Linked DNA regions of Homo sapiens: region 1 is linked to region 2. Evidence: fine-mapped expression QTL. Tissue or cell type: whole blood. Region 2 holds a variant in brackets; the other region holds the start of a gene. All regions are shown on one strand. Distances are between the middles of the regions.

Region 1 (8,099 bases), 180 kb before region 2:
ATTATTATTATTATTATTTTTGAGATGGAGTCTCGCTCTACTGCCCAGGCTGGAGTGCAGTGGCGCAATCTCCGCTCACTGCAAGCTCCGCCTCCCAGGTTCACGCCATTCTCCTTCCTCAGCCGCCCGAGTAGCTGGGACTACAGGTGCCCGCAACCACATCCAGCTAATTTTTTGTATTTTTAGTAGAGACGGGGTTTCACCGTGTTAGCCAGGATGGTCTCGATCTCTCGACCTCGTGATCCACCCGCCTCGGCCTCCGAAAGTGCTGGGATTACAGGCGTGAGCCACCACGCCCGGCCTTATTATTACTATTTTTTGAGACGGAGTCTCGCTCTGTCACCAGGCTGGAGTACAGTGGCATGATCTCAGCTCACTGCAACCTCTGCCTCCCGGGTTCAAGTGATTCTCCTGCCTCAGCCTCCCAAGTAGCTGGGACTACAGGCACGCACCACCATGCCCAGCTAATTTTTGTATTTTTAGTAGAGACGGAGTTTCACCATGTTGGCCAGGATGGTCTCGATCTTTTGACCTCATGATCCACCCGCCTTAGCCTCCCAAAGTGCTGGGATTACAGGTGTGAGCCACCGCGCCTGGCCACAACACTCATTTATTATCTCACAACTGTGTAGGTCAGAAGTCCTGCATGGTGTGACTGGGTTCTCTGCTCAGTGTCGCAAAGCTGAAATAAAGGTGTCTACTGGACTGAAAACAAGGTGTCCCCTGGAGCTCTCAGCTGGAGGAAAAATCTGTTTCCAAGATCATTCTTCTTGTTGGTAGAGTTCAGCTCCTTGTAACTGTGCGACCAACTTCCCCGTTTCCTTGCTAGCTGTCAGGGGCCACTCTCAGCTCCTAGGGGCTGCCCACATACCTTGACCCATGGCCTCCCACGTCTTTAATCTAGCAACAGCTCATCAAATCCTCTTGTGCTTTTGAGTTCATTTGTTGTAACTGGCCAGAGAAAACTCTCTGCTTTAAAAGAGCTCATGTGATTAGGTCAAGCCCACTTGGATAATCTCCCTGTTTTAAGACCAACTGTGCTATATAATGTAATCTGATTATGAAAGTAAAATCCCTTATAGTCACAGCCTGGGGATTATGGAGAGTGTGTATATTCGGAGTGAGAAATCCCGGGGGACATCTTAGAATTCTGTCTACCACAATAGGTAAGAGTTAGACAAGCACTGATAGCTTTCTAGGTGGGAAAGAAATGTGGAGAAAAGCTCAAAAGTGAAACTCTACCAGGAATTTCTGGAGACTGTGAATATGTCAGTTTGTGACTGCTCTAATAATGATAATGGTTTCTTTTACTGAAGGTCTCCTAGGTGCTTTACAAATTCCCTTACATCAGCTCTGTGACGGTGCTATTATCCCACTTGCCGGAGTTATATCTCCATCAAGTTGTGAAGCTGGGGTTCTGGCTTGAGCTCTGGATGGCTCTGAATTTATGCTGTTTGCACTGTTTAACCTGCCTGTCTGTGGGTCTAAGGTGGGGAAGCTGAAGGCAGTAAGGTTGGTCTGGACCCAGATTGTGGAGGGCATTGGTGTTAACACATGCTAACAGGCACCAAGAAAGATTTTAGAGGGAGCCAGTGAATGTGGAAATCAGGGGGACGGAAATGGGTATGATTATGGATGTTGGGGAGCACATGGGCTGGATGTGCAATGTGATATTCTTTTTGGGAGGTTAATATGGCCAGTCAGGCATTAAAGATGATTACATGATCAAGCCTCTGAGTCTTCCTGCCAATCTGTAGGAAATATATAGTTCAGAAGAACAAGTTAAACTACACATAAATATACAATCAGCAAAGTGGGGACAGGGTGAGGATTTAACAAAATCATACACTTTTTGGGAGGCTATATATACTTTGGGAGGCCATTTATACTTTGGGAGGCCAAGGCAGGTGGATTTCTTGAGTCCAGGAGTTTGAGATCAGCCTGGACAACATGGCGAAACCTTGTCTCTATCAAAAATACAAAAATTAGCCGGGCGTGGTGGCATGCACCTGTGGTCCCAGCTACTTGGGATGCTGAGGTGGGAGAATCACCTGAGCCTGGGGAGGTCAAGGCTGCAGTGAGCCGAAATCACACCACTGCACTCCAGCCTGGACAATCGGAGTGAGACCCTATCTCAAAAAATAAAAACATAAATAAAAATAAATAAAATAAAATAATTTTTAAAATAAAAAAATCATATCGTTCCATCACTCAACTTTTTTTTTTTTGGACAGGGAGTCTCACTCTGTTGCTCAGGCTAGAGTGCAATGGCACGGTATCAGCTCACTGCAACCTCCACCTCCCAGGTTCAAGCAAGTCTCCTGTCTCAGCCTCCCGATTAGCTGGGATTACAGGCACCTGCCACCACACCTGGCTAATTTTTGTATTTTTAGTTGAGACGGGGTTTCACCAGGTTGGCCAGGCTGGTCTTGAACCCCTGACCTCAGGTGATCTGCCTGCCTCAGCCTCCCAAAATGCTGGGATTACAGGCGTGAGCCACCGTGCCTGGCCCCATCACCCAAATATTTATACTATTAACACAAAGTAATGGGCAGAGAAAACAGCTGTGGTGGTTGTGGTAGGACTAGACAAAAATTTTCATTTGATGTGAGAATCTTTTGCTTGGAGGCATTACTGAAAGTGTTTACCTCAGAATGGGAAAGCTTGGGCAAAAGCGAATTTGAAGTAAGTAAGACGTTTGGAAGATGTCTTTTTTTTTTTTTTTTTTTTTTTGAGACAGAGTCTTGCTCTGTCGCCCAGGATGGAGTGTAGTGGCGCGATCTCCGCTCACTGCAAGCTCCGCCTCCCGGGTTCACGCCATTGTCCTGCCTCAGCCTCATGAGTAACTGGGACTACAGGCGCCCGCCACCACGCCTGGCTATTTTTTTTGTATTTTTAGTAGATACGGGGTTTCACCGTGTTAGACAGGATGGCCTAGATCTCCTGACCTCGTGATCCGCCCGCCTCAGCCTCCCAAAGTGCTGGGATTACAGGCGTGAGCCATCGCGCCCGGCCTGGAAGATGTCTTATACAAAGCGTGAGGGAACTGGATAATTTGGTCTTACCTATCAAAATATAAAATGCATATACTTTTGCGTTTTTCTCTTTCCTGGTAGGCATTTGCGCTAGATAAATACACAGATGCACAGCACAGGGGTAAGTACAATTCATGCAGAATTGTTTTTTAATAGTGAAAACCAGGACCCAACCCAAGTCCATGAGTAGGAAATTGGTTCTGTAAATAGTTTTATTTCATGCAATGGAATATCATGCAGTCATTAAGAAGAATGAGGTAGACCTCTACCAGCAGTGAAAGATAAGGGCATTTTAATCAAGGGCAATCATACCTAGTTCCAGGAAAATGTTTATTAATCTCATTTAGTTAGAAAATATATATGTAGAAGTGAATCTATAGACAAGTCTAGAAGGCTACACACCCAGCTGTTAAACAGAATGTCTTTGAGGAGGGCAGGGGGCGGAGTCTGCGTTTACGTGAATGGGACGCTGCTGTTTCTCAGTGCACCTCTGCTGTTTGAATCTTTTACTAAAAACCTTCCCATGCATTGCTGGGAGGGAATGGAAGGAGTATTTTGAGGGTTTCGTGTGAAGGGAAAAGTTGAGGAGGGGACGTGGGAGACCCCTTGGTCTCATCAAACTCTAGCGCCGCTTGAGGTGAGGAGACCCCGCCCCGCTGAGGTGATTCTGCAGAGGGGCGGAGCCCCCCAGATCCGAGGCGGGAGGCGGCCCGGGGGCGGGACCAGCCGGCTCCAGCGGCCCGCTCCGCTCCCACCATGCCCTTATAAGGAGCGCCCGGCGTTAGGGCTCGGGAATCCGGTAGCAATCCCGGCGGCTCAGCCCCAATCCCAGGCCCCTCCCTTAGGAATGGGGGAGGGGCGGGGTTTGGCGGCGCGGTGGCTGGGGCGGAGCATCTCGAAAAGGGACCAGTAGGAGTGGCGGCCCAGGTCTGAGCTGCGCTGCCATTGGGCGCGGCGACGAGAGGGGGCGGGGAGCCCGTGAGGCTGGTTACGCCGAGGGAAGCCCCGACTCCGTAGTCGCTGCACAGTCTGTCTCTTCGCCGGTTCCCGGCCCCGTGGATCCTACTTCTCTGTCGCCCGCGGTTCGCCGCCCCGCTCGCCGCCGCGATGCCAGTGTTTCATACGCGCACGATCGAGAGCATCCTGGAGCCGGTGGCACAGCAGATCTCCCACCTGGTGATAATGCACGAGGAGGGCGAGGTGGACGGCAAAGCCATTCCTGACCTCACCGCGCCCGTGGCCGCCGTGCAGGCGGCCGTCAGCAACCTCGTCCGGGTGAGCGCGCAGGGCCTGGCGCGGGAGCGGGCGCGGGAGGTATCCCCGGGGCCCCGGCCCGCGTCGCGGCTGCCTGTGGCCGGCTCGCTGGCCGTGGCTTTCCGCGTGGGTTCCGGAGCCAGGCGCCGAGGGTTCGAATGGCCTCTTCTCCGCCCTGTGACCTTGAGCGAGTCCTGAGCCTCTCCGGGCCTCAGTGTCCTCATCTATAAAATGGGAGCAGTCATGAAAAAGGCTGCCTTGCGGGCTTGTCGTGAAGATATGGCGAGGTATTATTCGTGGAGTGCCTCGCGCGGCGTGTGGCCCACAGCAGACACCCAATAAATGAGAGTTGCTGGGATGTCCGAGGGTCCCTGCCCCGCGCAGGCTTCGCCCCCACGTTGACTTCCTCGCTCTCAGCGCCTTTTAGGCCTCCTCGATCTGGCTGTGCGGGGGAGGGAGAGCGGGCCTTCCCACGGATCCCTTGCCTTCTCTTCTAGGGATCCTTATTTGAGCCACGTTGTCCTCCTTTCTAATACTTCTGCCCCTCACCCTGAGACCCGCCTCGCCCACCCCCGCTCCCCAGAGCTCCCTGTATTCCGCCCTTTTATTCACTTGCCTCACTCTCTGTCGCCTCCTCCTCCCTCCTGGGCATTTTACTTATGCTCACTCCTCTGGCACTCTCACACCTTTATGCAGTCATTCGTGACCACAAGCCCGGTTTTTCCTTCCGCTCAGCCCTGCTGCCCTTCCTTTCATTCCCTCCTGTGGACATTTTCACCTGGCGTTACCTGCTGTCAAACGGCCTCCTCCCACTGGGGCCTTTCTAGACTCGGGGGCCCTCCTTGGCCCCTCCTCCTGGCAGGAAGCAAGATGGAGCTGTTGGGAGAGGCCTGTGGAATCTGGGATCTGCCGCCCCTGCCGGAGAGAAGGCTGGGGCATCCGCTCCCCATCCACAACTTTCCTGGTGGCTCTGCAGACCCCTGTAACCCACAGCTGTGACTCATAACCGAGGTGATTCCTGGAGGAGGTGGAGCCCACGTCTGAAATGGGAAAAAAGAGGTGCTGAGACCAGTCTCCCAAGACTCCCCTGGCTAATGTCACACTTTTCTTTCCCACCCTGGGTGGGTGACTCAGACTGGTCCTGCTTGTGAGGAACAATTTTGGAAAAAGTTCATACTGCTCCCCCACTGAGCTGTGTAAATAGTGTGTGTCAGGGCAGTTGGGCGGCAACTGTGGGTCTGTCTGGGTGGGGCTTGGGTTACTTTTCTGATTTGAGCACTTTAGTGCACTTAGAGGCTCTTTAGCAGCTGAAAGTCTTCCTCAGTCTTCAGGGGTCCCTGGACTGTCTCAAGCAATTTAGGAGACTGGTAGCTAGGAAGACAGGGTGACACCACCGACCAAATTCCTGATCTTTCTTCTCTATAGCTTTAGTAAGAATCTATTCATTCAGTAAGAATGCTGTATTCATTCACAATGTCTACTTGTACATTGTTCTTCTTTTTATAACTAATTTGAACAGAACACTCCAGAGTACATTCTTATGTAGTGTTGTCTAACATGGCTGCATTCCAGGCCTCCATTTTTCAACAAATAGGAAACAATGTAAAGAGACAAGGTAATAGTGTCTCTCCATGTAGTACTTCAGGAAATGAAATCTTAAAACCACATGTTGCACTTGGAACAGAGCTAGTGTAGTCTAGGGGTTGATATCTGGTTAGGCTATTTAGAGAAAAGTTATTTATGGGCTTCCATGCCATGAATTAATAAGCATTGAATGTCTGCTATATGGAAAACACTGCAATAAATCAGTGCTTCTCAGCTTAAGAGTGTTCATGAAAATCATCAGTGAGGCTTTTTAGAAATTAAGATGTCCAGCTCCCACGGGTCAAGGCCTTTGTATTTTGCTTTTTTTTTTTTTTTTTTTTGAGACAGGGTCTCGCTCTGTCACGCAGGCGCTGGAGTGCAATGGCGTGATCATAGCTCACTGCAGCCTCCATCTCCTGGACTGAGAAAAATCCTCCCACCTCAGCCTCCCAAGTAGCTGAAGGCCTTTGTTTGTTTGTTTGTTTGTTTGTTTTTGAGATGGAGTCTTCCTCTGTCACGAGGCTGGAGTGCAGTGACACGATCTGGGCCCACTGCAACGTCCTCCTCCCAGGTTCAAGTGATTCTCCTGCCTTAGCCTCCCGAGTAGCTGGGACTACAGGTTCGCACCACCGTGGCCAGCTAATTTTTGTATTTTTAGTAGAGGCGGGGTTTCACCATGTTGGCCAGGATGATCTCCATCTCTTGACCTTGTGATTTGCCCGCCTCGGCCTCCCAAAGTGCTGAGATTACAGGCATGTGCCACTGTGCCCGGCCAGGCCTTCGTATTTTTTAGGAAGCTCCATAGGTGATTGTGATATACGGCCTTAGTTAGGAAACACTGTAATACACACTGTGAGACAAATACAAAAGAAATAAGGTTATAAGATGAAAACAATGATATGTAGTTAAGTTATATACTTTCCAACACATACAAAAGAGGGGACTTGAGATTGGTGGTAGCTATGGGTTAGCAGAGACAAAGTAGGGAGGATTGTGCTGATAAATAGTTAATCATGAACAAAGGTACTTGTGAGTAAGTCACTTCCAGGTTACAGCAAGTAGATTATCTTGATTGCAGCTCAGGAGACAAGTTGGAGAGAAATTGGAGATGAAGTTAGTGCGTGACATATGGGCAGTGTAACATAGGCCTTATCCAAAAGGATGAACAAAGAGAGCAGGAGGGGAAGGAGGATGAGAATAGTGTGTGAGAAAGACTGCGTGAGAATGGCGTGTGAGAATAGTATAGTGTGTTTTGGGGAGGCCAGAGGACCTACCCATTGCTTCACATTCTTGGTGCCAACTGTGACCGTTAAATATGTGGATTCTGTACATGCTTCAAGATTGTTCCTGGAGGTCAAGCCTTGTCTGATATTCCTCTCTTTTTAAAAAATTTTATTTTGGTTTTAAATAGAGACAGGGTCTTGTTATGTTGCCCAGGCTGGTCTCGAATCCCTGGGCTCAAGCAATCCTCCCGCCTTGGCCTCTCAAAGTGCTGGATTACAGTTGTGAGCTACTGTGCCTGGTCTGATATTTCTTTATATGGTCCTCAGTTCCTGCCCTCAAAATTGGCACATAGGATCACTCAATAAATATTGTTGAAGGAACTATGGGAAGGGAGACAAATTGGGAAGCTTTTAAAATTGGTTGGTTATGAAGAAAATGAAGGCCTGGACTTGCGAGTGGCAGGGAAAATGGAGAAGGAATTAATCAGAAATATATTAGAAGAAGAAATAATAGAACTGGATAATTGAACTCTGAATTTGCTAGAAAAGAAACATAGTATTACGGTAAAATAATGAAACTGATTTTAGAACAAATCTTCTGGAATTTATGTAATCTGGGTGAGTATTTCTTGGGAGTTACTTTGGGAGGTTATATCCTTATTCTAGTGCTTTTCTTTGGGAATTTCTTTCAGATTATTTACATACGTATGCCAAATTAGTCTTATTTTGGTCAAGAAAGTGTACATTTTGACTGAAGTAGGCATTCTTGAGCTCAACTACTTCATTTACTGTTCTTGAGCCTAAATGACTTTTGGATATTTCCATAATTAAAATTTACTAGATGAAGATGAAATTTTCAATTGTTGTAATAGTCATTCACTTATCAAGCAGGTGTTTATTGAGACCCCTTCCAATGTCAAAGCAATAAGTGTGATGCCTGTCACAATCAGTATGATACTGAATTGGAAGTCTTTTTTTTCTGAGATGGAGTTACGCTCTTATT
Region 2 (8,102 bases):
TCTGATTGCTTTTATAGGGCCAGACCACAAGATTAGATAAAGTATATGGAATATTTACATATCAGTCTTACGAAGAGCAAACTATTCAGACCCACTTATCTTGATTCAGCTATTCTAATTGTAAAAAGACTACTGAAGGTTAAAAATTTCAGTTGACTATTTTCTCCTAAAGTAGGATAAGCTAGGCTTTTAGGAAAAAAATAGGGTTGAAATAAATTGTTTAGAAAATTGATCAAAAGTAGTAGTTACTCAGTACTCTCTCTCTCAGCGCTCACTCTCTTTCTGTCTCTCTCTGTCTCTCTGTGTGTGTGTGTGTGTGTGTGTGTGTGTGTGTATTTAGAAAAAGAGTAGAATGGAAAGATTAGAAATAGAGCATGAAAGGCTGGGGAAGGGAAGTTGCTGTGAATAACAGAACTTCTGCCTTTACCTGGGAAAATATATCTTTACTTTTGTCGCTACATTATTGACTCTGAAAGATCACATGAGTCCTCTTTCTTGAAATAATATTTTTGTGTTTGTAACTGCTGACACGACTGGTACTTAAATTTTGAGAGAATAAACTTTTTGAAAATTTTTTTGACCATTAATAAAAAACTTTTTTTTCATTTCCTACAGTACATGGATTTTCTTTTTTTTTTTTTTTTTTTAAGACAGGGTCTTGTTCTATCTCTCAGGCTAGATTGCAGCGGCGCAAACACAGCTTGCTGTAGCCTTGAACTCTTGGGCTCAAGCCATCCTTCCATCTGAGCCTCCCAGGTAGCTCGGACTACAGGTGTGTGGTCTCCCTATGTTGCCCAAGCTGGTTTTGAACCCCTAGGCTCAAGTGGTCTTCCTGCCTTGGTCTCCCTCAGTGCTGGGATTACAGGTGTGAGCCATTGCACCTGGCTAGACAGCTGATTGGCTGGGCGCGGTGGCTCACCTGTAATCCCAGCATTTTGGGAGGCCGAGGTGGGCGGATCACCTGAGGTTGGGAGTTTGAGACCAGCCTGACCAACATGGAGAAACCCCATCTCTTATTAAAAATACAAAATCAGCCGGGTATGGTGGCACATGCCTATAATCCCAGCTGCTAGGGAGGTTGAGGCAGGAGAATTACTTGAACCTGGGAGGCAGAGGTTGCAGTGAGCCGAGATCGCGCCATTGCACCCCAGCCTGGGCAACAAGAGTGAAACTCCATCTCAAAAAAAAAAAAAAAAAAAAAGCGGATCACGAGGTCAGGATATCAAGACCATCCTGGCCAACATGGTGAAACCCCATCTCTACTAAAATACAAAAAATTTGCCAGGCCTGGTGGCGCACGCCTAGGGGATTGCTTGAACCCGGGAGGCAGAGGTTGCAGTGAGCCAAGAGTGCACCACTGCCCTCCAGCTTGGTGACAGAGTGGGACTCCATGTCAAAAAAAAAAAAAAAACGGTTAGATGCAAATATCAAAAATGAGTTAAAAAATATCTTTGGTGTGGCTTCAATTTTATTAACTATTTTAATATTGCAGACCCATATCTTCCCTTAATTATACTGAATTTAGTATATTTGTTAAAAAATAAAGTTTTAAGACTACCTGTTTTGGTATCAAAATTAGTTTTTTTTTTTTCTTTTTTTTTGAGATGGAGTCTTGCTCTGTCACCTAGGCTGGAGTGCAGTGGCATGATCTCTGCTCACTGCAAGCTCCACCTTGGGTTCACACCATTCTCCTGCCTCAGCCTCCCAAGTGGCTGGGACTACAGGCACCCGCCACCACGCCCGGCTAATTTTTTTTTTAATTTTTAGTAGAGATGGGGTTTCACTGTGTTAGCCAGGATGGTCTCGATCTCCTGACCTCGTGATCCACCCGCCTTGGCCTCCCAAAGTGCTGGGATTACAGGTGTGAGCCACTGCGCCCGGCTAGGTTTTTTCAAATTGAAAATTTTTTTTCTTTTTCTTTCTTTTTTTTTTTCTTTTGAGATGGAGTCTTGCTCTTGTTGCCCAGGCTGGAGTGCAGTGGAGCAATCTCAGCTCACTGCAACCTCTGCCTCCCAGGTTCAAGTGATTCTCCTGCCTCAGCCTCCCAAGTAGCTGGGACTATAGGTGTGTGCCACCGCGCCCAACTAATTCTTGTATTTTTAGTAAAGATGGGGTTTCACCATATTGGCCAGGCTGGTCTCGAACTCCTGACCTTGTGGTCCTCCTGCCTCAGCCTCCCAAAGTGCTGGGATTACAGGCGTGAGCCACTGTGCCTGGCTTTAATTTGAAAATTTTAATGTTACAAATCAAAGGTAGGTGTTACCAAAGTATGTTAAGCATGAGCAAAAGTGCATTTGATTGTTCAGAGGGCCAAGTTCATGTTAGCTTTGGGATCATGCCTCCAGAGATGTAAGTTTAACTATTATGATAATAACAAAGTAATAATTATGCCATGTGCCAAGGATTCTATTAGACTCTTTACTATAGTTAATTAAATTTTAATCTTCACAGTGCCCTGAACAGCATATAATGGGTAAACCGAGGGACAGACAGTTTAAGAACCAGTTTAAAGGCTGGGTGTGGTGGCTCATGCCTGTATTCCCAGCATTTTGGGAGGCTGAGGTGGGCGGATCACTTGAGGTCAGGAGTTCAAGCCCAGCCTGGCCAACACGGTGAAACCTTGTCTCTACTAAAAACACGAAAAAAAAATTAGCTAGGCATGGTGGTGCGTGCCTTTAGTCCCAGCTACTCGGGAGGCTGAGGTGGGAGAATTGCTTGAACCCCGGGGATGGGGGCGGAGGTTGCAGTGAACCGAGATCATGCTACTGCACTCCAGCCTGGGTGATAGACTGAGACTCCATCTCAAAAAAAAAAAAAAAAAAAAAAAAAGAACCAGCTTAAAGTCATACAGGTAATAGGAAGTCAAGCAGAAGTTGCAAACCAGATACCTTTTGCTACCTTTACAGGCTTGCTACTCAGCCTGGCCCACAGACCAGAAGCAATTAGTGAGACCTGGGAACATAAAGAAATGCAAAATTTTGGTCACTGATACCTGCAGTGCCAAACCTGCATTTTAACAAGATCCACGAGATTTGTATGCATGTTAAAGTTTGAAAAGCACTGATGGTGTGAAATGTGGATTATCTATCAACATTTTCCACAAGAGAAGGTGGGTAACTCTAGCCAGTGTCTCCACCACTGTGAATTGCTAATCCAGCTGCTGCTTTGCTTCAGATCCTGTTTAATCCAGAGGAACAATTGACTAATTCTGCTTGTGGACCTTCGGTCAAAGTCTTAACCA[C/T]GCCAAGTATAGCTCAGTGTTTTAACAGCTTTTACTCATGGACTGAACACATCAGTTTTATAGACCATGGCTTCATTCTGGATAGGCATTTCCCAGGTTAAAGAGAACAGTGCTAAAAATAGCATTTTCTAAAGAAACTTGAAATCTTCTGGAATATTTGATGTGTTTTATGGCTAGCAAGAAAACAGATTTGTATAAACTGGCTTCCTTACTAATTTCATTTTGTGAACTTAATTATTCTATCACAGGGACAGTGATAGGTAAAGCTAACTTAGACTAGAGCAGCACTGTTCTGTAGAAATATAATGCAAGATTCCTGTAATTTTAAATTTTCTAGTAGCCACATTAAAAAAGGTAAAAAAGAGGCCAGGAGTGTTGGCTCACGCCTGGAAGGCTGAGGCGGGCAGATCGCTTGAGGCCAGGAGTTTGAGACCAGCCTGGCCAACATGGTGAAACTCCGTTTCTACCAAAAATACAAAAAAATTTAGCCAGGTACGGTGGCGCATGCCTGTAGTCCCAGCTACTCGGGAGCCTGAGGCACAAGAATCGCTTGAACCCAGGAGGCAGAGGTTGGAGATCGCACCACTGCACTCCAACCTGGGCGACAGAACAAGACTCCAGCTCAAAAAAAAAAAAAAAGTGAAATGTAGTCCAACTAAAACAATACAATTGTGTTTAGTGGAAAAATATATTGCTTCAGTTATAAAATTTAAATGAATTAAAATTAAATAAATTAAAAATTAAGTTCTTCAGTCCCATCAGCCACATTTCAATATCGGATGGTATTGGTTGCTTCTGATATAACTGATTTCAGACATATGAAATTGATCACCATCCTAGATGGTCAGTAAGTTAATGCCACAGGATATTGTAGTCTATTAATAACATTGTAGAACAGGGCCCAGTCGTTCACACCTATATTCCCAGTGCTTTGGGAGGCCAAGGTGGGAGGGTTGCTTGAGGCTAGGAGTTCAAGACCAGCCTGGGCAACATAGTGAGACCCTGTCTCTACAAAAATAAAAAAATGAAAATTAAAAAAATTATTGCACAGAGAATAAAGGAATAAAAGCAATTTGGATCATAAAGCATTTACTGATTCCCCCCTTTTCATAGTTGGAGTTAATTTTCCTTTTATTGGTTCACAATTTCTTAACTCTTCAACTGCATTAAACTGTAAGATTAGAGCCAGGAGTTAGGGTGCCATCCACTTTTCCCCTCTATGGTCTTAGATTCTTTTTTTTTTATAGCCCGCATGCTTCTTTGGAAAGTGAGGTAATTGTGTCAAATAGGATAGCCTTGAGTGGGGCCCAGAGGTTGTAAAATTTTATGTCTGTACCTGATTCACCTGGTAACTTGCTAAAAATACCGATGTCCAGGCCTACCTTTCTAGATTCGGATACATAAAGTGACACTTTCCATATTAAATAAGCTGCTCTAAGTGTTTCTGAAGTTCAGGAACGTTTGGGACCATCAGATCCAGCAATTGACTCTCAAAGGCTGCGGACTGGAATTAGTACGTCGTGCTGCCGTTGCCAGGCATTTTATATTTTCCTAGGCTGAGGCTTCCCAGGCTGTTGCTTTTTTTCCCCCCACCTTTGCAGATGGATTTTGCAGGCTGTTAAATCCCACTCCCGAAGACCTGCCCTGACAGCGCCTCTTTCCTAAGTGCTGTTACAGGGAGCTGAGCTTGCCGAGGTAGACAGTGGCCACGTGACTGCTAAACCGGTTGCCAGAGGCGCGGCCATTTTTGGGGCGGGCACCCAATCTCTCGCCCTGTAAACTGCGGGGTGACGGGACGCTGTTACTAGGACTCAAGATGGCCACCGCGCCCGCTAGTCATCTCGCTAGCCCGCGCGCCAGTGAGCTGGCACGAGACACGCGGTGGCCCACGGCGTCTGGGGACGATCTCCAGCCCTTCGCACGGGGCGGAGCGCCCGCCTTCCCTCCAATCAGCACGCCGGGCCGGCTAGCCAGGGGCCGCCCGCGCGCGGGGTGTGTGAGGACGCGCTCCCAGTCGCTGAGTGCCTGAGCCGGGAAGCAGTTGCTGTGGTACCTGCTGCTGCCCGAGCGGACGTAGAGCATCGGACGCGGGCGCCGTGGCGCTGGGCAGGAGGGCGAAGCCATGACGTCAGTCAGGTAACGAGCGGGCGGCTGCCTTGACTGCTCCGAGCTGGGCGTTAGCCTCCCGAGCGCGTGAGCACTGTCGCTCCTTCTCGCGGGTGGTCTGGAGCCTGCCTCCGCCTCTGGTCCCCCTCGTGTTGGGGGTTCCCTCCGCACTTTTCATTTGGGCATTTCTGCTTTCCTCAGAAGTTTTCGGGTCTGTGGCACATTGCGGAGTTCTGTGTGTCGCTGCTTGGTCGAGGTGACCCTCGCCCAAATTCCAGGGTTGCAAGCGTTCTTGGGTGTGTAGTGGATTTCCCATGAAAAATGTGCCCCACCCGCGCCCCCGGGGGCGGCCCAGGGCCGGAGGGAGCGTGGCGTGCACAGTGTGTGTCATGCCTGCGTGTCATGCCCTCTGACAGAACTTCATTGTTGGCCGGGAGCAGACCTGCAAAGTTGGCCCTTCTCTGATGCAGGTATATTGCCCTCAAGTTGTGAAATTGTGTGTCTCTAAAATGTTTGCTCATGACTGGAATTAGGACCCTGGTTCCCGAAGGTACCATCTTGTTTCTTTACTCCTTTTATCTCAGAGTCACAAGTGAAATGAGTTGAGAGATACTGGGCATGTAGCGAAATCCATGAAACTGGAGACTTTCCCCCAATTGCTCTTCCAGTTTGGAAGGTTCTTTTTTTGTTAATGAGGACAGGATAATGGGCTTGTCCACTTTCTCCCAGTAGCCTTGACTGAATGTTTAATTTACGCTAGTTCAACTATTTATAAAAAGAGATAAATTGCCTTATATACCCAGTGTTCTGACTGGCCTTTTTAAAAGCAGAACTTGGGCTTTGTTGTCCCAGAGAAAGGGAGGCCCCAGCACAAAAATGTGAAGAGAAATAAAATAAGCTCATTTTTGGTCTATGAGCTTTCCAGGCTCCACCCGTCCTGGTGATTTGAGGGCTTCTCAATGCCAATTTTTACTACATTGTGTTTAAGAGACAGCTTGGGAACCTAACCCTCAGTAAGATCTAACTGTGCTGAACTCGGACATAGTCTGTCTCTTAAATTGCATAATTATATATATATATATATATATATTTTTTTTTTTTTGAGACAGAGTTTCGCTCTTGTTGCCCAGGCTGGAGTGCAATGGCGCGCTCTCTGCTCACTGCAATCTCCGCCTCCCGGGTTCAAACGATTCTCCTGCCTCAGCCATCCAAGTAGCTGGAATTATAGGCGCCAGCCACCACACCCAGCTAATTTTGTAGTTTTAGTAGAGATGGGGGTTTCACCATATTGGCCAGGCTGGTCTCGAACTCCTGACCTCAAGTGATCCACCTGCCTTAGCCTCCCAAAGTGTTGGGATTACAGGAGTGAGCCACCGCTACTGGTCTAAATTGCTTCATTCTGTACTAACATAGACAAAGTACTTATCTCATTATGCAGAAGGAGATTCAGGTGCTGAAACATGGAGACCCACATGGAAGGATTTCACAGTAAATTATATTGGGGCATATAAATCTAGCTTTTAAAGCTAACAGTATTTTAGGATGAATTAGAATTAGGCTATTATACCCAGAGTTAATTCCCCTTCTTCCCATTCCCACTCTTATTATCACAGAATGCTACTAATTAGGTGTAGGGGTCAAATACTTTCTGTGTTAAGAATCAGTTGTTATGTGGATTCAGTTTTAATTGACTATCATCTTCCTGACCGTGCCTCATTGGAGAAACATCCAAATCTAAAGCTTCTGCTGTTTAATAAGTGACAGCAGGATGTATCTTTTACTGTAGGGGTTGATAGTTTTTTTTAAAAGACTGATGTAAAGGTTGACACCAGCCTTACTTGACATGTTTTGAAAGGATGGATAACTGATAATAAAATTTATTTATGCTTGTTTCTTCAGATGTCAGTCTGTATTTTACATAATCTTGAACTATGGTAACATGGCTCGAGAAAGCTCTTTTAGATGTTATTTAAACCAGCTATTACATTTTACACCTGAGGAAACTGAGACAAAAGTTGAGTGCCTTGTGCAAAATCAGCGGCAAAATTAGGAATTGAATCCAGATTTCCATGATTTAGTGCTCTGCATGGTGCCTTTGTAGAAACAATATACTATTTAAACTTCCTGAAAAAGCTGTTTCTGTGGACAGAAATTGTAAAGTATCATGAGAGACAACTATAGTAACTCTTTTGCTTTCTTCTTATCCTGCAACGAACTTGATAACTGGGGTTTAGAAGTAGGCAGGGTTAGCCAAGAGAACACAACTACTGGGTGTTGGGAAGTGCAGGGAGGCCATTGAAAGTGAAGTGACTCTGTATGGTGATAGTTTTGAATGAGTTGGTCATCCTACAGATACCAGCCATTTCCTGGTGAACACTACATTTAATACAATTATGTCATATCTTTAGTTTTTGCAATAATGATGTCAGACATGTTCCTATCAGAGGCATTTGAGCCAGAGCGACTCCATCTTGAATAGGGTCTGGGTAAAATAAGGCTGAGACCTACCAGGGTGCATTCCTAGGAGGTTAGGCATTCTTAGTCACAGGATGAGATAGGAGATAGTCAGAAGATACAGGTCACAAAGACCCTACAACAGGATGCAGTAAAGAAGCCAGCAAAAACTCACCAAAACCAAGATGGTGATGAGAGTGACTTCTGGTCATCCTCACTGCTTATTATACACTAATTATAATGTATTAGCATGCTAAAATACACTCCCACCAGTGCCATTGACAGTTTACAAATGCCATGG

The links. PIP is the estimated chance that this variant, and not a neighbour inherited with it, causes the effect.
Region 1: it holds the start of VCL, and the variant in region 2 is fine-mapped to the expression of VCL in whole blood (TOPMed, PIP above 0.99).

The regions. Positions count from the first base shown.
Region 1 is chr10:73,994,066-74,002,164 of GRCh38, forward strand. VCL (vinculin) reads left to right here and starts at 4,051. Exons shown (of 22, transcript NM_014000.3): 1 at 4,051-4,310. The coding sequence starts at 4,143. RefSeq lists silencers at 3,660-4,019, 4,350-4,399 and enhancers at 4,080-4,279, 4,352-5,003.
Region 2 is chr10:74,171,510-74,179,611 of GRCh38, forward strand. The region is part of intron 1 of ADK (adenosine kinase); the gene reads left to right. Among named protein-coding and RNA genes, the nearest start is that of ADK, 24 kb to the left of the region's middle. RefSeq lists enhancers at 4,293-5,239, 4,994-5,113. The variant C/T (reference allele first, on the strand shown) is at 3,242.